Linked DNA regions of Homo sapiens. The protein of the gene in region 2 purifies or fractionates together with the protein of the main gene of each other region. This does not show direct contact. Each region holds a gene or a part of one and is shown on either strand. Other genes may lie near its edges.

Region 1 (7,810 bases), on a different chromosome or scaffold from region 2:
TAGCTCAGCCCTGGTCCTTCCCTCTCCTTTCTGGACCCCGTCCCTCCTGAACAAGTGACAGGGAGCACTGGCTGCCAATGCAGCAGGCCCTCCCTTCACATGTTTCGCGCTGACAGCCCGCAGTCCCCGCCTAGCAGGCACACTGTCTTCCTGGAGCTGCCTGGAACCTCCCTTCCCCAGGGCGGGGTTGGGGGGCCCATCATCCCTTCCTCTTCCTCCAGTCCCCATTCAAGTCTTGACTCCAGCACAACACCCCCAAGTCCCCGCGGGCACTGACGGGCACGGACTCACGGGCACTGACCCACCCGCGGGCACTGACTCACTTGTGGGCACTGACCCACTTGGACCTGTTCTGGCCACCCTCCAACTCCGCTGCCCTTGGCAAAGCACCCTCCTCCCACTGGAGTCCAGCCGGCCCTCCCTGCTCCTCAGACCCAGGGCTCTCATGGCCACAACTCCCACCTACCCAGCAGACCCCAACCCCTCCAAAGGCAGCCCGTTCTGGCCGCCTGGCTCCCTCCACAGGCAGGGCCTTGTGTGGGCGCCTTCCCCACCCAGGGACCCCAACTGCCGCCCACCTCCGCACGCAGCCACCTCATCACTGCACCTCTCCTCCCCGGCGGAGAGGAGGCCTCACAAGGGTGGGCAGTGTGTCTCAGTGCCAAGTTCAGAGCCCTGCACACAGCAGGCGCTAAGCAACTGCAGCAAGGAGGGGCCCAGGCTGGGGCACCCGGGTGACGGAGACACCATAGCTGCGGGCAACTCTGCCTTCATGTGATCCTGACCAGCCTCCCCCCACAGCCCAGACGCGGGACACCCCGAATCAGGGCAGCATCTCTGCCAGGGCTCCAGGCACAGCTAAGGCCATCCCACAGGCAGTCCGTGGGGCCGGGCTCAGTCTCATCTCATCTCGTCTCGTCTGGGGGACTGAGTCCGGATGCGGGGCTGCACGGCCCAGCTCAGTGCCTGAAAAAGCACCAAGTACCACCCACCAGCGGGCCCCGAAGCAGGACTCAGACCACTCGCTGCGCCCACTCACAGCCCGGTCCCTCCCTCCACCCTTGCCAAATGCTCTCCCGGCATCTCCCTGCACGAGGCCAAGGGACTATCGCCCACACCAAACTCCACAGAAGCTGGTGGGGCCACAGACAACTCCCAACCCCCTTAGGGCCCAAGGTGCTGCTATTCCCGTCACGGAGTGCCCGCACACCTCCCTGCCCCCTATGCACCCCTACCCACCGCCCTCTGCCCTGCCCTGGGCACACAGGCAGCTCAGACAGCCGAGGCAGGGACCCTGCTTAAGGGGCAGGGTCAACACCCAAGCACTCGAGGGTGCTCAAACCGGGGCCCTGAGACGCAGGCCTGCTCTCTGTACCTCCCACTCCTCGGCCCTGGGGACCCCACATCCAGATCCCTCTGGGGGCAAGAGATTCCCACAGGAGTGCCCCGCCACAGCCCACCACACCTCAGAGACCTACTTGGCCAGCCGTGAGTACTTCACTTTTCCTGTCTTCTCCTCCTCGGCCGGAGTGGCTTTTCCCCGGATGGTGGTCTCTCTGTCGCCCTCCTGGTCCTCCTCCTCCTCCTCTTCCTCCTCCCGCTGCAACAGGTCTGCTTTCCAGCCCGCAGGGGGCTTCAGCCGCAAGCCCTCGGGGGGCGTGTCACACTGCCACATGCACAGCACTCCGTCCTGGCTGAGTGAGTACAGCTGCAAGGGGAAGCACAGGGTCACCCCAGCCCCAGCCACACTGGCCCAGCTGCCACAACCCGGCACCTCCCTCCAGCTCAGATCCAGGGACCAGTGGCACCGACGGCCCCTCTGAACTCTGAGAACAATTCTCGATGGGCCGCCACAGCTGCCATCGGTCCCTAGATGCCCCCAGGCCACACGGGAACAGCCTGGGGGAACCGCAGGAAGAGGCCGCCTGCAGCCTGGGGCCTCCCTGAACTAGCCGCTTTTGGCCACCATCAGGCTAGGGAACTTGGCAAAGGGACATACGTCCAGGCTGTTGGATTCAAAGAAGCAGGCCACGATGGCATCCTTATGTCCCCCCAGTGCATAGTAGATGAGGTTGTCCCAGCGCTCGGCTCCGAACACCCAGGTGGACATGTCTTTGCTCCCAACCACAAAGCACCTGGAAAAGAGGGAGATGGCACCTCCTCAGGGCTTGGCCATAACAAAGCAGCCAGGTGCAAGCTCCAGAGGGCTGCACGGAGACCGCTACAGCCCCACGTGGTCTCAGAGTGAGCTGAGACGCCTCCAGGCACAGGAAGACACCCCGGCACAGCCCCTGCCCTGTCTGCCTTCCTCACACCTCCCAGACGCTGTCCCTGCCCTGTCTGCCTTCCTAACTCCTCCCAGACGCTGCCCGAGCCAACCACAGCATTCCCAGTTTCTGGGACAAACAGGTGAAAGGGCAGTGCAGGGGCAGGAGGCTCGGCCACAGCACACACTTCAGAGCCGCAAAGACTCGACCACAGCCACCCAGCCAGTCCTGATGGTGTGGGCAGCGCCCAGCCCCAAAGGAGGCCGAGATGCCATTGCGGAACGAAGCTGCAGGGCCCAAGGGGGTGACCTGTCCAAGGGGCCTCTCTCAAGCCCCGCTCCCCCGAAGCCTCTGAGGCCGCACCTGGAGTCATCCGTCCAGTCGATGCAGGTGGTCTCATCGTAGGGCCCAAAATAGGTCTTGTCCAGAACGAAGGCGTTGAACTCCCGCTTCTTCCCAGGGGCATGATACATCTGGGCAATGTTACCCTTTGTGACAACAAACTTCCTATGGAAGGAACGCGGACATAGTTGATATTCAAGACCAGCAATGGCCCTAAGGCCACTGTGGAGTCTCAGCCTGCACCCACCTGGGCCTTCTGGAGTCCCGCCTCCTGCAGGATGGAGGCCAAGGAGCAGAGGAAGCAAAAGTCAGGGAAGAAACAGCCCTGGAGGGAGGGCAGCCTGGCCGCACCAAGCCTTCTCCTCCAGAAAAGGGGGTCACCAATGCCAGAGCTTGGGCCGTGTGCCCAACCCAACGTCACAACCCGGGGCCCAGGGAAACGAGCTGGGCAGTGGGCCTCACCGTCGGCATGCACGGCCGAACCCTCCTGCCCCCAAGCTGTCCCCCTTACCTGCCATCAGGGGAGAAGGACACACTGTGCACAGAGCCCTTGAAGTGGAAGTGGTGCAGCACAGACCTGCAGACCAGGCTGACCAGCAGCGCATCGCCCCCTGCAGGACGCCAGAGGTCACCACCGCGCAGCTACCCCAGGGGCCACCCCAGATACATAGCACGGGAAAAACGGAGAAAGGTCTTTCTCGCGTCCACTGTGAGGAGTCAGGACTGAGAATGCCCAAGGGCCATGAGGCCCTGCCCTGCCACAGGTGATGCCACAGACACAGCCTGCGGCGGGGACGCAGCCTCGCCCATGACACCCTCATCCCCAATCCCCACCCGGGCCCCAACACGGAGGCGACTGGGGAGCGGATCATTTCAGACCCACACAGCCCTGAGTCCTCCTCACTGGTCCCCTCAGTACCCGCCCACATCAAGGGCAAGTACCTTCATCGACGATGATAGCGAGGCGGCCATCCGGGGACAGCCCCACGCACTTGACGTTGTACCGAGTGGCCAGGGGCAGCGTGTCAGATTTGTTGCTGATAAAGACAAAAACCACAGTGTGCTGTTGGTCCTCAAGTCACATGAGGGAGACAGGCCAGGCCTGGCCTGGGACCAGCGGCTCACCCTCCCCAAGTAGCGCCTCCAATCTTACTGGACCCCACAAGCCAGAGCTCATCTGTGGATACCCCCCACTCCTGAAAAAGAAATGACATTGTTGGCCGGGCACGGTGGCTCACGCCTATAATCCTAGTGCTTTGGGAGGCCAAGGCGGGCATATCATAAGGTCAGGAGTACGAGACCTGCCTGGTCAACATGGTGAAACCCCGTCTCTACTATAAAAACAAAAAACAAAAAATTGGACAGGCGCGGTGGCTCACACCTGTAATCCCGGCACTTTGAGAGGCCAAGGCGGGCGGATCACGAGGTCAGGAGATTGAGACCATCCTCACTAACACGGTGAAACCCCGTCTTTACTAAAAATACAAAAAATTAGCCGGGTGTGGTGGCGGGCGCCTGTAGTCCCGGCTATTCAGGAGGCTGAGGCAGGAGAATGGCGTAAACCCGGGAGGTGTAGCTTGCAGTGAGCCAAGGTTGCACCACTGCACTCCAGCCTGGGCGACAGGGCAAGACTCTGCCTCAAAACAAACAAACAAACAAAAAAACCCAAAAAATTAGCCAGGCGTGGTGGTGGGCGCCTGTAATACCAGCTACTCAAGAGGCTGACGCAGGAGAATCGCTTGAACCTGGGAGGCAGAGGTTGCAGTGAGCTGGGACCGCACCACTGCACTCCAGCCTAGGTGACAGAGCAAGACTCTGTCTCAAAAAAAAAAAGAAAAAGAAATGACGTTGTCCCTGGAGGAACTCTAGTGAAATGCATTAAAAGCCTTAAAAATGGGCTTTGGATACATCAATTCTGCTTCCAGGATGATATGATGAGAGGATTATTCCGCCTCAGTGTGACATCAAAATACCAGAAGCAAGCTAAGTGCCCAACAGGAATTAACCACCATGACAGTGCACCCATGTAACACTGTTGCTAGAAAAATGGAAAATAAGGGGCTACAGGAATCCCGCGGAGATGCTGCAGATAACGCTTACACTGCAACTGAGTGAGGCACACACATTCCAGCTTCCCCATAAGCAGCCGAGCTGTGTTTACACCATACTGTAAACAGTACGGCGTAGTCTACTAGCGTGTGCTGTAGTCTGTAAGCGTGCACTGTGCTCTATTCGTGTGAGTTGTAGTCTGTTCGTGTGTACTGTCGTCGAAGTGTGTACTTTATTGGTGTGCGCTGCAGTCTACTCATGTGTGCTGTAGTCTATCAGTGTGCACAAGCATTCTGTCTAAAGCAACAACGTGCATCCCTTAATTTAAAAACACTTTACTGCTAAAAAATGCTAACAATCATCTGAGCCTTCAGTGAGTCTTCATCTTTTTGCTGGCAGACAGTCTGCCTCGATGTGGATGGCTGCTGACCAGGCACAGTGGCAGCTGCTGAAAACGGGGTGGCCGTTGCCAATTCCTAACACAACAGTGAAGCTTGCCGTATCGATGGACTCTTCCTTTCACAAGATGTCTCTGTAGCATGTGATACTGTTTGATAGCATTTTACCCACAACAGACCTTCTTTCAAAACCGGAGTCAATCCTCACAAATGCTCCCAGCGTTTTATCAACTAAGTTGATGTCATATTCTAAATCCTTTGTTGTCATTTCAACAGTCTTTACAGCATCCTCACCAGAAGTAGATTCCATCTCAAGAAACCACTTGCTGGCCGGGCATGGTGGCTCACACCTGTAATCCCAGCACTTTGGGAGGCTGAGGCGGGTGGATCACCTGAGGTCAGGAGTTCTAGACCAGCCTGGCCAACAATGATGAAACTCCTTCTCTACTAAAAATACAAAAATTAGCTGGGCGTGGTGGTAGGCGCCTGTAATCCCAGCTACTTGGTAGGGGGGCCCGAGGCAGGAGAATTGCTTGAACCCAGGAGGTGGAGGTTGCAGTGAGCCAAGATCATGCCATAGCACTCCAGCCTGGGGGACAAGAGTGAGACATTGTCTCAAAAAAAAGAAAAGAAACCACTTGCTTTGCTCATCCACAAGCAGCAGCTCCTCATTCATTCAAGATTGATGGCAACATTGCGGCAATTCAGTCCCATTTCAGGCTCTGCTTTCATTTCGAATCCTCTTGCTATCTTTACTGCATCTGCAGTAACTTCTTCCACCAAAGTCTCGAACCCTTCAAAGTCATCCATGAGGCTTGATACTAAACTTCTGTCAGACTCCTGTTAATGTCGACACTTTGCCCTCATTGAATGAATCATGAAATGACAACTAGAATGGCGACTCCTTCCCAGAAAGCTTTTTATTGGCTTTTCCCAGATCCATTACAGGAATCACTATCTTTGGCAGCTAGAGCCTTATAAAATATATTTCTTAAATGGTAAGACTTGAAAGTTAAAGTTACTCCCGTAGGCTGAAGAAGAGATGTGGTGTTAGCAGGCATGAAGACAGCATCTCCTTATGCGTCTCCATTGGAGCTCATGGGTGACCAGGTACGTTGTCCAACAGCAGAAATATTTTGAAAGGAACCTTAGTGGGTTCAACAATGGGCTGGAAAGATTCAGGAAACCATGCTGTAAACAGATGTGCTGTCGTCCAGACTTTGCTGTTCCACTTATAGAGCACAGGCAGAGTAGCTTGGGCATCATTGTGAAGGGCATTAGGATTTTCAGAACAGTGAATTAGCACTGGCTTCAACTTAATGGCCCCAGCTGCATTAGCCCCTAATAAGAGAGTCAGCCTGTTGTTTGAAGCCAGACACTGACTTTTCTCTAGCTATGTAAGTCCTCGATGGCATCTTTTTCTTTTTTTTTAATTTATTTATTTTTAGATAGAGTCTTGCTCTGTTGCCCAGGCTGGAGTGTACTGGCACGATCTCAGCTCACTGCAACCTCTGCTTCCCAGGTTCCAGCAATTCTTCCACCTCAGCCTCCTGAGTAGCTGGCATTACAGGAATGTGCCACCATGCCTGGCTAATTTTTGTACTTTTAGTAGAGACGGGGTTTCACCATATTGGCCAGGCTGGTCTCAAGCTCCTGGCCTCAAATGATCTGCCTACCTTGGCTTCCCAAAGTGTTGGGATTACAGGCATGAGCCACTGCGCCTGGCCATCTTTTTCCAATAGAAGGCTGTTTTGTCTCCATTGAAATTTTGTGTTTAGTGTAGTCAGCTTCATCAATGATCTCAGCTAGATCTTCTGGATAACTTCCTGCAGCTTCTCCATAGCACTTGCTGCTTCGCTTTGCACTTTTATGTTGTAGAGATGGCTTCTTTCCTTAAACTTCATGAACCAACCTCTGCTAGCTTCCAACTTCTTTCCTGCAGCTTCCTCACCTCAGCCCTCACAGAACAGAGGACAGGTAGGGCCTTGCTGTGCATTAGGCTTTGACTTGCTTAAAGGAATGTTGTGGCTGGTTTGATCTTCTATCTGGATCACTCAAACTTTTATCCGTATCTGCAATAAGGCTATTTTGGCTTTCTTGTAATTTGTGTGTTCACTGGAGTAGCACTTTTAATTTCCTTCAAAAGCTTTTTCTTTGCATTCACAACTTGCCTGTTTGGTGGCAGAGACCTGGCTTTTGGCCTATTTCAGCTTTTGACATGCCTTCCTCACTAAGCTGAGTCCCTTCTAGCTTCTGATTTCAGGTGAGAGTTGTGTGACTCTTCCTTTCACATGAACACGTAGTGGCCACTGTAGGCCATTATTAACTGGCCTAATTTCAGCATTGTTTGTGTCAGGGAATAGGGAGACCCAAGTAGAGGAAGAGAGACGTGGGGGGGTGGGGAACAGCCGGTCGGTGGAGCAGGCACAGCACACACAGTGCTTACCGATTAAGCTCGCTGTCTTACATGGGCACGGATCACGGCACCCCAGAACAATCACGATAGCAACAGCAAAGATGATCACAAATCACCCTCACAGGTATAATAAACTTTGAAATATCACAAAATTACCAAAATGTGACACAGAGACATGAAGTGAGCCCCCACTGCTGGAAAAATGGCACCGACCAACTTTCTCCAAGCAGTGTTTCCACACACCTTCGCTTCGTGGTAAAACAGCATCCGCACAGAGCCAGAGTGCAACAAAGTGAAGCAAAGTGCAACAGCACACAGGAAGAAACCGCTAAACCCCA
Region 2 (7,925 bases):
AAAAAGTAGCCAAGCTAAGATGCCTGGCTGGGCTTCTGAGGAATTAATACACTCGTGTGTGTGTGTGTGTGTGTGTGTGTGTGTGTGTGTGTATGTGTATGTGTATGTACACATACATATATATAGTTGACACTTGAAAAATGCAGGTGGTAGGGGCACTGACCCACCCCTACGCCCCGCACAGTCAAAAATCTGCATATAACTTTTGATTCCCCAAAGTCTTAAGTACTAGTAGCCTGTTATTGACTGGGAGCCTGACTGATGTATTATATATATTGTATACTGTATTCTTAAAGTAAGCTAGAGAAAAGAAAATGTTACTTAGAAAATCATAAGGAAGAGAAAATATATTTACTGTGTTTATCAATACTATAAGTGTATGTCATCTGTTTATAAAATGAATTGTCTGTCTGGATTGGCAGGCAACCACAGCCGCAGACCTCAATCTGTGGTACTTATCAAGCATCAGCTTTTTCTTGTAATGTCATGACTTTTCTCTGCTTTTTGGGAGCACTGTGATATGCAGTTTACTGGGGCGATGAGTTGTTCATGCACAGGTGATTAGTGTCACAGCATTTTAAGTGCATACGCACAACACTTGAGCTCACTGCATAGCAACAGGAGGTGGCTGTGAAATTATTTCAGTAACATACTGTGTATTACAGTTCATTTTATGCAGCTATGATTTAATACTGCATCTTTACATTATTTTACATTTCTCCCAAAACTGTGAATTGCACCATGTATGATCTGTATTTGTGTGTGTTAATGTTGATAATAGATTTGCGTGTATTTTATGGCAGTAAATGATAAAATAGTCTAGTATCTACATATATTTTGTGCATTCATGATATAACTACTTTTTTCCTAATTTTTTTCATCTGAAACTTTTCTCATTGTTTCAGATCTCCAAAAATTTTTCCAATATATTTATTGAAAATATCTGGGCTGCGTGCAGTGGCTCACGCCTGTAATCCCACCACTGTGGGAGGCCGAGGCAGGCGGATCACAAGGTCAGGAGTTCCAGACCAGCCTGGCCAACATGGTGAAACCTCATCTCTACTAAAAATACAAAAAACTAGCTGGGCGTGGTGGCAGGCGCTTGTAATCCCAGCTACTCAGGAGGCTGAGACAGGAGAATCACTTGAACCCGGCAGGCGGAGATTGCAGTTAGCCAAGACAGTGCCACCAGCATTCCAGCCTGGGCAACACAGTGAGACTCCATCTCCAAAATAATAATAGTAAAAAAAAATCTGTATAACAGTGGAGCCAAGTGGTTAAAACCCATGTTCAACGGATTGTCTACTGTATATCTTCATGGTAAGGATTTGGGGAATGTTCTAGGAAAAGATATTGACAGATACCTCTGGGTCTGGGCTTTTCTTTTGGGGAAGTTTATAAATGACTAAATCATACTTCTTGTTACAGGCCTGTTTAGATGTTCTGTATCTTCTTGAGACAGTTTTGCTTTTTATCTTTTTTGTTGTTGTTAATCCCAAAGATTTAAAACTATGGTTTCTGTCTGAATTTGGTCATTGCAACCAAGTTACTGTGTTGTGGGGCCACCATTTTCTTCTAGGCTCAGATATGCAGTCCTTGTGGCTTGCCGATTTGTGTCCCAAACCACAAGTCTTAATGTTCTTGAGCATAACACAATCACTGAAGTGAGTAAGGGATGCAGTGGTGTTATTTGTTGGGCAGAATAAATAAGTGAATTTTGGCATAGAGTTTCTGAAGGCATAACTATGAAGGCAAGAGAATAGGCAGGCAGGATAATGCATTCTAGGTGCTTTCCAAGGAGTCAGTGTTGTTTAGGCAGCTATTCCTGCCACCAGGGAGAGGAGTTAATTCTTGAAAAAAAATTTAATTTTTTATGAGAACAGAAGTTGATTCAATATCCTTCTTAGAGTTGCTCATCAGAACATAAATGTCACTTTCTAGTAACATTTTTGATGGTTTCCAAACCAAAACAAGTTCCAGGAGGGCATTCGAGATGTATACATCATCAATAATTACTCTTATGTTAAAAGTTGCTGTTTTCCCGTAGCTTTGCCACCATTTATAACTCAAAAGCCTGATAGTGCTAGGGAATGTAAAGATGTTTCTGTCTGCTAAGTGTTATACTAATCGAAGAGAAGGAGAACTTTTATGATAAAGTGACATGTACAGAACCTAGCCAAGTTACAATTTTTGGTCAAAATACTTGAAACTCTTTAACTCTAAAAGTTTAAGGTCAATAGGTGCATTATAAAGTAAATTTTAAGCCAGGCAAATTTCTAGTCATTAAGTCAGTATTCATTGCCTTAGTCAGCCATTGGCTGTATATAATCCTTAATATAAAAACCATCTAATGACTAATATCTCTTGCATATTGTGAAGTAAGTTACCTATAGAAATTCTGTAGTACCATAAAGAAAAGCCTTTTGAGATTGCAGTGAGCTGAGATTGTGCCACTGCACTCCAGTCTGGGCAACAGAGCCAGACTCCATTGAAAAAAAAAAAAAAGGCTCTTGAATGATGTATTGGGAGTAAAACATTTAGGCTTATTTTTAAAAATGTATATATCCATCCACTTAGAGAAAATATGCTTAAAAATTTTGAAATTCACTGGCTGGAAGCTAGGTGCTTTGTATATTTGGTATTAAATTGTTTCTCAATGGCAAATGTCATAAATTATATCTCATTCTAAAGATATCTAGCAAATCTCCAGCAGAGATCTAGGACAGTGCCCAGGAAAGCAATGGTATCTGTTGGTAGGTACAGGACTGTATATAGGACTCTATTCACTTAGCTGTAAATGATGAGCCTGCTCAATGCAGCCTTTTCAGGCCAGATTAGTCTTCAGAAAGAGAGGGAGGTTGTGAGCAGAAGCTTAATGAAGAAACCACATTGGCTTACAGTTACTGTCTGCAATCCACCCCCATTCCTCACAATTTAAGCTCCTAAGTTTGAGATGGGGCTAAGGTTCTTAAAGGTAGTATCACCATATATTCAAGTCCTTTCTCTTTATTTCTGAGGTTTTTGGGATCCAAGCAGCCCTGGTATGTTTTTAGAACACAGTACACATTGTGTAACAGTCACTGAGCCCAACTCTTACATAGGGCCTGGCAGTGTTGCCCTTGTGTATCCCTTCCCCTTGAGTATGGGGTCGGACCTAGTGACTGGCTTCTAGTGAACAGAATACAGTAAATATAATGGGATGTGTCTTCCAAGATTAGGGTATAAAGCACTGAATTCTACCTTGCATGAGCATTACATTTTATAATATATATAAAGAAGCAACTAGTATAGTTATTTAAACAAATATTTTCTTTTTTTTTTTTTTTGAGACAGAGTCTCGCTCTGTCTCCCAGGCTGGAGTGCAGTGGCACGATCTTGGCTCACTGCAAGCTCCGCTTCCTGGGTTCACGCCATTCTCCTGCCTCAGCCTCCAGAGTAGCTGGGACTACAGGCACCCGCCACCACACTTGGCTGATTTTTTCTATTGTTTAGTAGAGACGGGGTTTCACCAAGTTAGCCAGGATGGTCTCGATCTCCTGACCTTGTGATCCACCCACCTCGGCCTCCCAAAGTGCTGGGATTACAGGTGTGAGCCACCGGGCCCGGCCTAAACAAATATTTTCATTCATTCAGGCCAGGTGGCTTATAGGTTTCTGACTATAAGAAGAGGGGAAGAAACCTGGGGTCTAATACCTCAAATTTGAATGCTTGACAATCAAATTCCCATTTATTACTTACTGTACCTAATGTGGAGAAACTTTACGAGACATGAAGACTCCAAGTGTGGAGGAATAAATTGTAGAAGTTCTCTGGACCATTGGATTTTCTTTTCCCTGGGGAAAGTCTTTTGGTCGTTTATCATAATTGCTGCTTGTTAAAACAGGTAAAATACTTGTTAAGGGCTGTGCTTTTCATGACTAAATTATTTGCATATATAAACCTAAATAACATTTTAGAATCATAGAATTTCTTCTCTGGCAACATCAGTTCAATTTTAGGTAACTGTCTATCCAATGCAAATTCTGCATGCTCAGGCTTGGGGGTTAGAGGATGGATATGCCAATGTCTAGAATGTCTTCTGTTCTCCCTAGTGTACATTTCTCTCCTAACTGTGACTGGCTTTCTATAAGGAGCCATCAGTATGGTCAAGCCCCAAACCATATCTACATCAGATTTCATGCTTTTTTTTTTTTTTTTTGGTGGGGAGAGGGACAGATCATTGTTGACACTGTAAGTAAGTAGATAAAAGATCTGATAAGATTTTTTGCCCTTTATCTGTGTCTGACAGGTTCTCTCTAATCTATAAGCAGGGAAATAGAAAATTTATTATAAATACAAATGATTTCATTGCTATGATCAGCAGCAGTGACTCAGGTATTTGCATCTAATAACCTGTGTGGAGAGGGTAAGGGCACTTGATTTAGTTACCAGAGGAAAAAACTAGTTCTTTGGCTAGTTTCCTTCTGTCACAATGGAAAAACCCTGTCATTACTCAAAGGAAGAGAAAAAGGGAGGGGAGGAAGGTGAGAGGAAGGGAGAGAGACTTTCCCAGTGAGGACTTTCCTTTCCTATTTTATATTTTGCTCCATTGTACTTACTGCCATCATTGTTTATGGTTTACTTACTTTATGTATTGTCTGTCCTCCCACTGGAATGTAAGCTACATAAAGGCAGGCGTTTCGGCATCTTTGAAAGCATAAATGAACAAATGAACTAAACTTCATTTATTGACATCAGTGCTATCTGACACAAGTTCCTTTAACTTTCTCCTTCACCTCGGAATATCTGAATCATCAGCTATCTTCAGCTTCTCCCTTGCCAAGACTAACCCTTCAGCTCTGTTTTTTATTATTCTTTTGCCCTGTTTTGGATATTGCAGTTTCAATCACTTCTACTCATTCATATTTTTAATATATATCTTCTGCTCCACTCTCTTCAGCCTACAAACATGTAGGTCTACATTAAACTGAAAATCCTTCCTATATTCTGTTGCATCCTTGAGTAACATATTCTCTTGCTCTTTCCTTTAATAAATTTTCTTGAAAGAATATCCATAACTAATGTTTCTGCTTTCTTAATACAGTCATTCTTTACCTTTTGCAATTTAGTTTTTATCCCAACCAAATTTAACACTTTAAATCTGAATTTTCTTTGACATCTCAATAGCATCCGTCAATTGTGTCCGTCTTTTCCTTGAAATTCTTCCTAAGGCTTTTGAAGTATTTCACCATTTTCTAATTGCTGCTTTTGTCTCCACTGGCTCTTCTTCCTCCTGCTCCCTAAACCGACTCCAGATTTCTGTTCCTTGCCCATACATTCAGCCATCACCTCTGTGTAAACGATGCTTAAAATTATTATATCTCCAATTCTGACTTCTCAGTTGAGATCTAATATTACATATACATGATTCATTACCTCAGCCCAAAACTTTGAAGTTGAACTCGATGTCCTCTTTCTTCCATCCATCAATGGCTTCTACCTCAGATTTTGCAGTTTCCTTCCCCCACCATGTCTTTCATTCATGTCCCTCTTTTATGTTGACTGTTCCCCCACTCCCAGTTCTTGTCCTCACACATGGCCCATTCAGGTAGACTTCTAATGGTACTTTTACACATCCAGTTGTTCCCCTTTGACATGTCCTGCACAATAACCCTGGATTCATCTTAATAAAGATATGCTGATCATGTCACCCACAGGGTCAGGAATCTGCAGTGGTTCACTGCTGCTTAAATAATAAAATTCAAGCCAAGGATTTAAGATCTTTCATAACTTGACTCCAACCTACTTTCCCACTATATTCCTAATACTCAAGCTTTTGGCAAGTTGAACTCCCTGCCAATCATCCCAAACACCTGGAGCTTTCCTGTTGCCATGGTTTTGTTCATTATTTTTACTTAAAGTTCCCGTCAATCAAGTTTTCACATTCTATAAGATCCAGCTCAAAAATCAAATAAATAGAGAACTGTAACACAAGCAGCACACAATTCATGCCACTGGAGAAAGTACAAAATAGAAATAAAATGTGAAGACTTTATTTCTGCTACAAATTATATAATACCTTTTAAGACAGAGTCCAATTATCCATTTTTATATATGATAAACTATTTTATACAGTACCTTGGAGGTAATAGGTTCTTGATATCTATCTAATATCTGTTTGGCTGAAGACACTGATAAGGAGGAATGCATGCATAATTCAGTGAATACCCAACCTTTATAATAATAAGGTATTTCCTATCCTTCCATAAAATTATAATTTTTTTGTGATAGATACTTGCTGTTTTATTATTCTGTCTGATATTCCGTAGATAGCCAATAACATTTACATTTATTCAATCTGAAGTTACTGCACATATACTATGTGTCAGGTATTTTTTTAGATTTGGCTAGGTGCTTTCAAAGATGAATGAAGATGCTCTTTGTCTTAATAAATTTAACTCTGATTTTGAAGATAGAATTAATAAAGTAGAGATGCATTTTGACTTCCATGTTTTCCTCACTCGTGTAATTTCTGCACTATATATGATTACTCAAGTTGAACTTTAAAGGATATTTGCTTCCACAGGTAGGAACAGAACCTCATGCTCTGTCATAATCTCGATATTGTGAGAGATGTGTGCTGATCCCTTGGCCCCATCCTCTCCAACAGCTGTGGCAAATAACTCTATATTCAGTTCTGTCTGCATACCAGCTGCCACCTATAAGACACAAGGTAGCTTTAGGACCAGACAACTCTGAGTTCAAACCTTGCTTTTAATAATATGAATTTGAGCAAGTTACTTAAACTCTCTTACCTTTGGTTTCTTCATCTATAAATTTGGCACTAACAAATGGTAGTTATTATAAGCATTTAGCGGAATTACTTCATAATGAAGGTAGAATTCCATTAAGTAAAGGGGAGCCAGGGTAAATTGTTGAAGGGGCAAACCAGGTGCTATTTAGGAAAAAGCATAAGGAAGCTAAATGCCAGGTTATTGGAAGTGGAACTGAAGGCAAAATTTTGCAATACTCCTAATTGTGCTAGTTTTTGAATGTCGGTAGTGACTTTCAGTAGTGAAATCTGCAATAGCGGCTACTGCAGACAAAGATAAATTTAATCTAATATAAATATAAATCAGGAGGCTGAGGCAGGAGAATTGCTTGAACGCAGGAGAATTGCTTGAACCCAGGAGGCAGAGGTTTCAGTGAGCCGAGATCGCGCCACTGCACTCCAGTCTGGTGACAGGGCAAAACTCCATCTCAAAAAAAAAAAAAAAAAAAAAAATTCATCTAACAGACTTGGTGACTACCATAACTTTCCTACCCTGTTCCTTGCAGGGGTGTCCAATATTTTGGCTTCCCTGGGCCACATTAGAAGAAGAAGTATTGTCTTGGGCCACACACAAAATATACTAACAATAACGACAGGTGATGAGTTTAAAAAAAAATCGCAAAAAAATCTCATCATGTTTTAAGAAAGTTTAGGAATTTGTGTTGGGCTGCATTCAAAGCCGTCCTGGGCCATGGGTTGGACAAATGTGACTTTAGGGTATTCCTAATGCAGGATGCATAAAATAATGAAACCAGTAGAGGGAGATAAAATTAGTTTAAATGCCCAACTGCTTAGTTTGAAAACCCGTGGAAGAGGATTGCACCAACAAAGAAGAAACCTGATACAGAAGGAAGAAGGAACACAGCAAGGCATGGGCGTCTTGCCTTGTTCTTTGAAAAGAACACTAGCCAGCAAAGAGAGAGCTATTTATGTTTCTAAGTTGCCTCTCCAGGAGGTGGGTTAAAAAGCAGACTTGGGAACAGTTATCTAGAAAAAAATAAATCTGAAACTACCACATGAAAAGCAATTAGATACAAATGGAATGTTTTCTTCAATATAGTTTTATAAATAGTAGAATTGGAAAATGTTTCACAGTTTTTTCAACAATGTACTT
Region 3 (7,888 bases), on a different chromosome or scaffold from region 2:
CGCTGTAGTGGGCAGTCAGCACAGCCAGGCATGACCGGTCCTGCAGTGACCACACGCGGATGGCGGCATCCGTGGCCGAGGAGAAGAGCAGCAGGCGTGTAGGGTCCGGGTGGAAGGCCACTAGGCTGTGGGCGGACGGGACAGGATGGGTGAGCTGTGCAGCCTGGGTGGTGCCTCTGCCCTCCCCCTCCACCTTCCAACTCACTGCACGACACCGGGCGAGCCTCGGAAGTGGTGTGTCCCGTAGTGCCGCACGATGTCCCAGACGCGCACGGCCCCATCACAGCCACCTGCGGGGAAGCAAGGTGAGGGGGTGGAATGCCCAAAGCCCCTGCATCTGTGCCCACGACCCACCTGCACGGCAGGGCCCTACCTGTGGCTAGCAGAGTGGAGGTGGGGTCGAAGGCCATGGTGGCCACGGGGGCCGTGTGTATCGCCTTCCACAGGCGGGTAACGCTGCCCTCTTGCCAGGCCCACTGAGCCAGCAGCAATGCCCGACTGGCTGTCACCAGCACCTGGGGGAGGGTACAGGTCAGCAGAGGGGCAGCAATACCCTGCTCACATCTTCCTGGACTCAGTCTGGGAGGGAGGCGCTGGAGCGGGTCCCCTCCAGGCCCCGCCCCACATACCTCGTTGTCAGGGCTGAGGTCAAAGGCAGTGATGTCCTCCTGGTCCTCCTAGGAGAAAGAGTGGTGTGCCGAGCACGGTGTGAGTGGGCTGCCCTCTCCACTTGCCCCTCACCCACCCAGGCTGCCCTCACCTGCTCCAGACTCCGCAGCACGGCCCCCGAGGCCACTTCCAGAATGTTGACTCTGGTGCCACAGACGCAGAAGAGGTGCTGGCCAGTCTGGTCCAGCTGGGGACAGAGAGGTCTCAGCCAGGCAACATTCAGCACCCCCCGCGGCCTCTGGCTGCCCGCCCCACTGCCCTTCCCCAGGCTGGTACCTGTGCTTTTCCGCCCTTGTAGAAAGGCTCAATTTTGCGCTCCACAGCATAGCTGGAAGGAGAGCGGGAGGCGAATGAGCACCACCCACCCCCTCAGTCCCCAGGGCCCCGCCCTGTGCTAGGTGCTCCTCTCCAAGTGACCCCAATGGCCCCTGCCCTTGAGTTTCTGGGCAACAGCAGGGACAGGGCATGGGGTGGAACCAGCAGTACTGCAGGGGGCTGTAGCTACCGTCGTCACTGAGAAGTAGAGACCCGCAGCTGGCTGGTGATCCCTGAGGCAGTAGGGGGTGGGCCTGTGTCAGGTGGAGTCAGCCCAACAGCCCAGGGCTTCCAGGGATTCCCCAGTGAGAGCCAGGGGGCTCCTTGGGAACACCCCTGCCGGCGGTGGGTGGCCAGGCCTGGGTAGCCAGCCCAGAGCACATCCTCCCAGTGTCTTCATCCCTGAGGTCTGGCATACCTCTTCCCCTCCCTGACTCCTCTCTCCATCCCCAGGCTTGCCCAGAGCCCGGGTCCCACGAGCAGCTGTCATTTCTGTGACCTCACTCGTGCCCCTTCTCCTTCCTTCTCCACTGCCTCCACCTGGTCCAGCCCATCACAGTCTCTGGCCAGCCACTCTGGCCTCTTCACTGGACCCCCTACCTACCTCTTTTTACTTATTTATTTTTTGAGAAGGGGTCTCGATCTGAGAAGGGGTCTCCAGCCCAGGCTGGAGTGCAGTGGCACGATCTCAGCTCACTGCAAGCTCCACCTCCCGGGTTCACGCCATTCTCCTGCCTCAGCCTCTCCGAGTAGCTGGGACTACAGGTGCCCGCCACTGCGCCCAGCTAATTTTTTGTATTTTTAGTAGAGACGGGGTTTCACCGTGGTCTCAATCTCCTGACCTCGTGATCCGCCCGCTTCGGCCTCCAAAAGCGCTGGGATTACAGGCGTGAGCCACCGCGCCCGGCCTCCCCTACCTACCTCTTAACCCTGCTGCCAGGTACCTTTCAGAACATAACTGAAGATGTCACTGCCCTGCGTTAGCCCCTCCCTTCTGCCCACACACCTCCCAGACCTTGCCCAGAAGAGCCTCTGCCACCCTTGCCTCTGCTTTCTTTCCTTCTCATGGCCCACAGTGCACCCCACTGCTCCTGTCCCAGCCTCTGGGACGGGTTTCCTATCTTCCCCCTATTCCCTGTACGCGGCCTGGGCTTCTCTTCCCAGATGTCAAGGCCTGGCTCACTGCGCTTCTGGAAGCCTGACTGCCAAAACGAAAGCGGCCCCTCAGCCCCCGCACCCAGTTGACCCTCCCACGACGGTGCTGCCAGCCTGGGACTTTCCTTTACCAGTGCTTGGCACAACCAAAGCCCCACAGCCGCCAGTGGAAACGATAATCCCATGAGGCTGCGCTGCCAGGGCGGGGGCACCAGCACTGCTGTTCGGCAAAGGCTTGGGGAGTGACGGGGCACAGCACTCAGGGCCTCCTGGGCTTCTGCGGACCCGCCCCTCTCCTGCATTCTCCCTGCTCCCTGGAGAAGACGGATCGCGGATGAAAGGTCCCCAGGCCGACTGCTCAGAGGTGGTTCTTCGCCCCCGCCGCCTCCCGGGACCAGCCCCGACCTAGGCTCAGCCCTCTCCTCCCCTCATCGGGACTTCTGGTCCCCACTCCACCCCATAGCCGGCTTCTCGATGAGCCCACGCTGCTGCTCCCGGCGGCCGGGCTCCGATCGCCGTCCTCCCCGAGAGCAGCCGGGGCCGGCTCTCCCGCCTAGTATCACCGCAGCCTCCGCGACCCCGCGGGCCGGCGCACACACAGCCTCTCGCCTCCACGGACCCCAATGCGTGCCCACCCCACGCGCGCCTCCGCTATGCCGGCTGCAAACCCAGCTCCCTCCCCGCACGGCCCCAGAGCTCCGGGCTCACTTGGTCTTGAAGCGGCCCACTCCGGCCGCGGTCTCTGCCATGTTGCCGCCGCCGCCGCTCCAGCTGAAACCTGCTAGGGTCCCGGCAGCCACCGCCGCGTGAGGGAGGTTAGCACCGAACTCTTCACAGAACGCCACACTCCCGGCGCGCTGCGATGGCGTCACCGCGCGCGACCACTGTGACGTCCCCGCCGGCGCCGCGCACTTGGCGCCATCTTTGCTTCGGGCAGTGGCGGCTGCATCGGGAAGCGGAAGCGGGCGGAGACGTTTCCGGCCTGGAGGGAGGGCCGTGAGCTGTGAGGGTGCTTCGCGGGTCGGTGGGGGTAGACCGGCGGATGTGGCATCGCTGGTGGCCTGGCTCTTTGATACCAGTATAAAAAGGCATTTGTAGCCAGCGTTTACTCCTGCTTTTCGGCGTTCTGGGATGTGGGGGTACCAGCTGTCGGGTGCGGTCCGTGCGTAGAGCCGTCAACCTGACCCTGCCCCTGGGCTCGCAGTGTGGCTCTTGATAAATAACGTAGGTAAATGAATAAACCGGGTAATCTCAAAGGCATTCATGTATTGAGCACCTTCTGTGTGCAAAGCACTGTAATCGGCACTTGGCGGACACCAGAGAAGAAACAGAACGGGCGACGAGTGATAGTTGCTGAGCGCGATGGAAAAAGGAGGAGGGCCGGGCGCGTTGGCTCACGCCAGTAGTCCCAGCACTTTGGGAGGCCGAGGCGGGTGGATCACCTGAGGTCGGAAGTTCGAGACCAGCCTGACCAACGTGGAGAAACCCCGTCTCTACTAAAAACAGAAAAAAAAAATTAGCTGGGCGTGGTGGCACATGCCTGTAATCCCAGCTACTTGGGAGGCTGAGGCAGGAGAATCGCTTGAACCCCGGAGGCGGAGGCTGCAGTGAGCTGAGATTGCGCCACTGGACTCCAGCCTGGGTGACAGCGTGAGACTCCGTCTCAGAAAAAAAGAAAGAAAGAAAGAAAAAAAAACAGAAGGGAGGGAGCGGAAGGGAGGAAGGAGGAGGCTGTATTGAGAAGGTGACGCCTGAGCAGACACAAGTTCGCGAAGCAGGGAGCCCTGTGGAACGAATGGTGTTGAGAACAGCCAGGGCACAGGCCTAGGACTGGGGGTGCCAAGCATTGAGTAGCAACAAGCCGGGTGGCTGCAGGGAGTGGGTGCAGAGGGCAGAGGGCATGCAGTTGCCTGTGCGCCGTGGCGAGGAGTTAGCTTTTACTCTGAGTTCAAGGTTTTGAGCCATTTGTGCTACTGGCTCTGAAGCTGGTAGAAAGTAACAGCCAGGCCGGGCGCGATGGCTCACGCCTGTAATCCTAGCACTTTGGGTGGCCGAGGCCGGTGGATCACGAGGTCAGGAGTTCGAGACCAGCCTGGCCAGCATGGTGAAACCCAGTCTCTGCTAAAAATACAAAAATTAGCCTGGTGTGGTGGCGGGTGCCTGTAATCCCAGCTACTCGGGAGGCTGAGGTAGGAGAATCGCTTGAACCCGGAGGCGGAGGTTGCAGTGAGCCAAGATCGCAACGTCACTGCACTCCAGCCTGGGCGATAGAGCAAGACTGTCTCAGAGAAAAAAAAAAAAGTAACTGGGCCAGTCTGGGCATCATGGCGAGACCCTGTCTCCACATACACACACACACACACAGAAAATTTAGTAGGGGTGGTGGTGTGCCTGTAGTCCCAGCTACTCTGGAGGCTGAGGTGAGAGGGCTGCTTGAGCCTGGGAAGCTGAGTTTCTAGTGAGCTGTGATTGGGCCTCTGCACTCCAGCCTGGGCAACAGAGACCCTATCTCAAAAAATAGAAAAGAAAAAAATGAAAAAACGAAAGTAACTGAGAAGGAGAACTGAGAAGTATGATCAGGGAAAATCTCTGAGAGGAGAGATATTTGAGGGAAAGAAAGTAGGCCATCATGGTGGCTCACACCTGTGATCCCAACACTTTGGAGGCAGGAGGATCACTTGAGCCCAGAAGTTTGAGACCAGTCTGGATAACACAGTGAAACCCCATCTCTAAAATAAACACAAAAATTAGCCGGCAGTCGTGGTGCGTGCCTGTAGTCCCAGCTACTCAGGAGGCTGAGGTGGGAGGATTGCTTGAGCCCAGGGAGGTTGAGGCTGCAGTGAGCCGTAATCACGTGACTGCACTCCAGCCTGGGTGCCAGAGCAAGACCCAGTCTCAAAAAAGAAGAAAAAGGTATTCTGTCTATGGAGTAGCCATTCTTGTATTCCCCTTATTTATTTATTTTTATTTATTTATTTTTTGAGACAGTCTGGGTCTGTTGCCCAGGCTGGAATGCAGTGGCGTGATCTCGGCTCACTGCAAGCTCCGCCTCCCGGGTTCACACCATTCTCCTGCCTCAGCCTCCCGAGTAGCTGGGACTACAGGCGCCTGCCACCACGTCTGGCTAATTTTTTGTATTTTTTAGTAGAGACGGGGTTTCACTGTGTTATCCAGGATGGTCTCAATCTCCTGACCTCGTGATCGGCCCACCTCGGCCTCCCAAAGTGCTGGGATTACAGGCGTGAGCCCCCGCGCCCGGCCTCGTTTTTTGAGACGGAATCTTGCTCTGTCGCCCAGGCTGGAGTGCAGTGGCACGGTTTCCGCTCACTGGAAGCTCCGCCTCCCGGGTTCAGGCCATTCTCCTACCTCAGCCTCGCGAGTAGCTGGGGCTACAGGCGCCCGCCACCATGCCTGACTAATTTTTTGTATTTTTTAGTAAAGACGGGATTTCACTGTGTTAGCCAGGATGGTCTTGATCTCCTGACCTTGTGATCCGCCTGCCTCGGCCTCCCAAAGTGCTGGGATTATAGGCGTGAGCCACCGCGCCTGGCCTATTTATTGATTTATTTTTATGAGACGGAGTCTCACTCTTGTCGCCCAGGCTGGAGTGAAGTGGTGTGATCTTGGCTCACTGCAACCTCCACCTCCCGGGTTCACACCATTCTCCTGCCTCAGCCTCCCGAGTAGCTGGGACTACAGGCGCCTGCCACCACGCCCAGCTAATTTTTGTATTTTTAGTAGAGACGGGGTGTCGCCATGTTGGTCAGGTTGGTCTCGAACTCCTGACCTCAGGTGATCCACCCACCTCAGCCTCCCAAAGTGCTGGGATTACAGGCGTGAGCCACCCACGCCCGGCCTCCTTCCTTTGAAAAAGAAAAGATGAAAGAGAGCAGGCAAATGCCTGGAGAGGGCAGCAGGGATGCACCGGTGACAGTTGTGAGGGCCGCAGGCACAGAGGCAGGCAGGCCGGGGGTCTGCTTTTATTTACCTATTTACAAGGTATGTTGGCCCTGGGCTCCCCCACCACCTCAGCCCCAACGTTGCCTTCTGGGGCAGCCTCGGCCTCCTCCTGTGGGGCACCCTCCAGCAGAGCGGTGTCTTCCTCCAGGAAGTTGCTGAGCTCCGCCAGCTCTCTACGAACGACACTGGTGGCTTGGTCCAGCCAGCGCACACGCCGCAGGAGGGACAGCAGCAGGGGCCGACGGCGCTCCTGGCGCACGCTCCAGGCGTTGTGCAGCTCCCGGTAGCAGTTGTGGCGAGCACGCTCGGCCGGGTCCAGGGTGGCCCCGCAGCCCAGGGGGCAGCGCTGCTGGGACCCTTGCTGGCAATGCTGCCGGTGCTCTGCCAGGGTCCCACGCGGCACCTGCGAGGTGCAGCCCTCGTTGGGGCAGGCCGTTAGCTCAAAGGGGCATGAGTCCTGGTGCCCCTTGCGATGGGCCAGGGGGCATGTCACTATGCAGCCAGCGTCGGCGTTCTTGCACTGAGGGTGAAGGAGAACGTGTGAAGAAACCGGGCAGGACACCCACGGAATCCCCCACCCCTGGCTTTCCATTCGCCAGGAACCAGGGAACCGGGAGCCTCCCACGCTTTTCTGACTCTGGTGAGTTGGTGGAGAGAACACTGGGGCAAATGCCTAGACGTGGGAAGAAGCTAGAAGTTCCAGGGGAGAGGGTGAGGCCTGAGTCTTGGGGAACTGGAAGGTACACAGTTGGGTTGGTCTGGTGAGTGGTATGGATGCCAGGCTTTCCTTTTTAACCTCGGTTTACCCATCTGTAAAACTAGGGGACTAGAGAGTAGTGGCAGGCACACTGGGCACTTGATCCTCTAAAAATCCTCTGTAATCTCCATTTTAAAAGTCCTCTAAAATCTCCATTTTCTAACCCAGGGGCTTGGAAAAGTTAGGTGACTTGCCTAAAGTCACACAGCAACTAAGCAGTAGAGCCACGATCCAAACTCAGCTATGTCTGGTCGTCCCAAGGCTGCACTTGTTTCTCTCTGAAGATGGGATTCTCCTGCCTTCTCTCCTAGCCCTGCCCCACCCCTACAAGGGTGAGAAGGGTTGAGGGTCAGGGGAGTGGGTACTTTGAGCTACCTTGACTTCCAGGCGGCCAATGGTTTTCCGGAGTTTATTCATGTGGACAACCTTTTTCCTTTTCACCTCTTTCCTACAGCACGGACAGGTCTTTTGTCTGGAAGGAGGCATGAGTAGGGGTGAGTGTTGGGAGTGGGAAGGGAGCCCTGGTCAAGCCCTCACTCGGTGACCCAGGTGGTCCCTTCATTAGCTGGATGAGGCATTAGGGCATATTACAGGGCGCTCTCAGCTCTGAGGGTGGGGCCGGGGTCTGCAGACACTACTGAGTGAGGGTACACACATTTTAGTTTAGGGAGATTTGGTGGCTGAGTCTTTTGGCTGACTTTCCCCTCTGTTCTGGGCCACAGCAATGGCCCCCAGTCTCACTCCTGCCCTCCCAGCCCCTTGGGTACCCGCTGGCACCTGGCTAGCCACCGGAGGATGCACTTTTTGCAGAAGATGTGGCTGCATGGCAACCTTGCTGGCCTCTTGAGAACCCCATGGCAGACGGAGCACACGAAGTTGCTGTCAGGAGGGCTGGCGAAGAGGTTGAGATCATACCCGCCACCCTGCAAAGGCCAGGTGTCAGCACCTGGCTGGGACAGTGATCCAGTCCCTGGTCCACATACCGAGCAAGAGAGCCCAGCAAGCTTTTGGCAGGGAGGTGGGCCACAGAAC

Evidence for each region. Proteins that work in one complex are often made in the same cells at the same time.
Region 1: the proteins of WDR3 (region 2) and PWP2 purify together in Homo sapiens (affinity purification with mass spectrometry; 2 studies listed by BioGRID and IntAct, with this or other methods). This does not show direct contact.
Region 3: the proteins of WDR3 (region 2) and TBL3 purify together in Homo sapiens (affinity purification with mass spectrometry; 2 studies listed by BioGRID and IntAct, with this or other methods). This does not show direct contact.

The regions. Positions count from the first base shown.
Region 1 is NC_000021.9:44,109,589-44,117,398, reverse strand, and holds part of PWP2 (periodic tryptophan protein 2 homolog), read right to left. Parts: intron 3,647-7,810; coding exon 3,552-3,646; intron 3,221-3,551; coding exon 3,121-3,220; intron 2,775-3,120; coding exon 2,631-2,774; intron 2,136-2,630; coding exon 2,000-2,135; intron 1,709-1,999; coding exon 1,479-1,708; intron 1-1,478. UniProt on the Homo sapiens protein: Part of the small subunit (SSU) processome, first precursor of the small eukaryotic ribosomal subunit.
Region 2 is NC_000001.11:117,960,056-117,967,980, forward strand, and holds the end of WDR3 (WD repeat-containing protein 3), read left to right. Parts: 3' UTR 1-3,743; coding exon of another isoform or gene 3,744-3,883; 3' UTR 3,884-6,488; downstream 6,489-7,925. Other genes in the region: SPAG17 (sperm-associated antigen 17), read right to left, coding at 3,744-3,883, 6,554-6,698. UniProt on the Homo sapiens protein: Part of the small subunit (SSU) processome, first precursor of the small eukaryotic ribosomal subunit.
Region 3 is NC_000016.10:1,967,165-1,975,052, reverse strand, and holds the start of TBL3 (transducin beta-like protein 3), read right to left. Parts: upstream 3,001-7,888; 5' UTR 2,889-3,000; coding exon 2,848-2,888; intron 998-2,847; coding exon 946-997; intron 857-945; coding exon 761-856; intron 678-760; coding exon 630-677; intron 516-629; coding exon 374-515; intron 291-373; coding exon 206-290; intron 126-205; coding exon 1-125. Other genes in the region: RNF151 (RING finger protein 151), read right to left, coding at 6,128-6,619, 7,232-7,328, 7,634-7,806. UniProt on the Homo sapiens protein: Part of the small subunit (SSU) processome, first precursor of the small eukaryotic ribosomal subunit.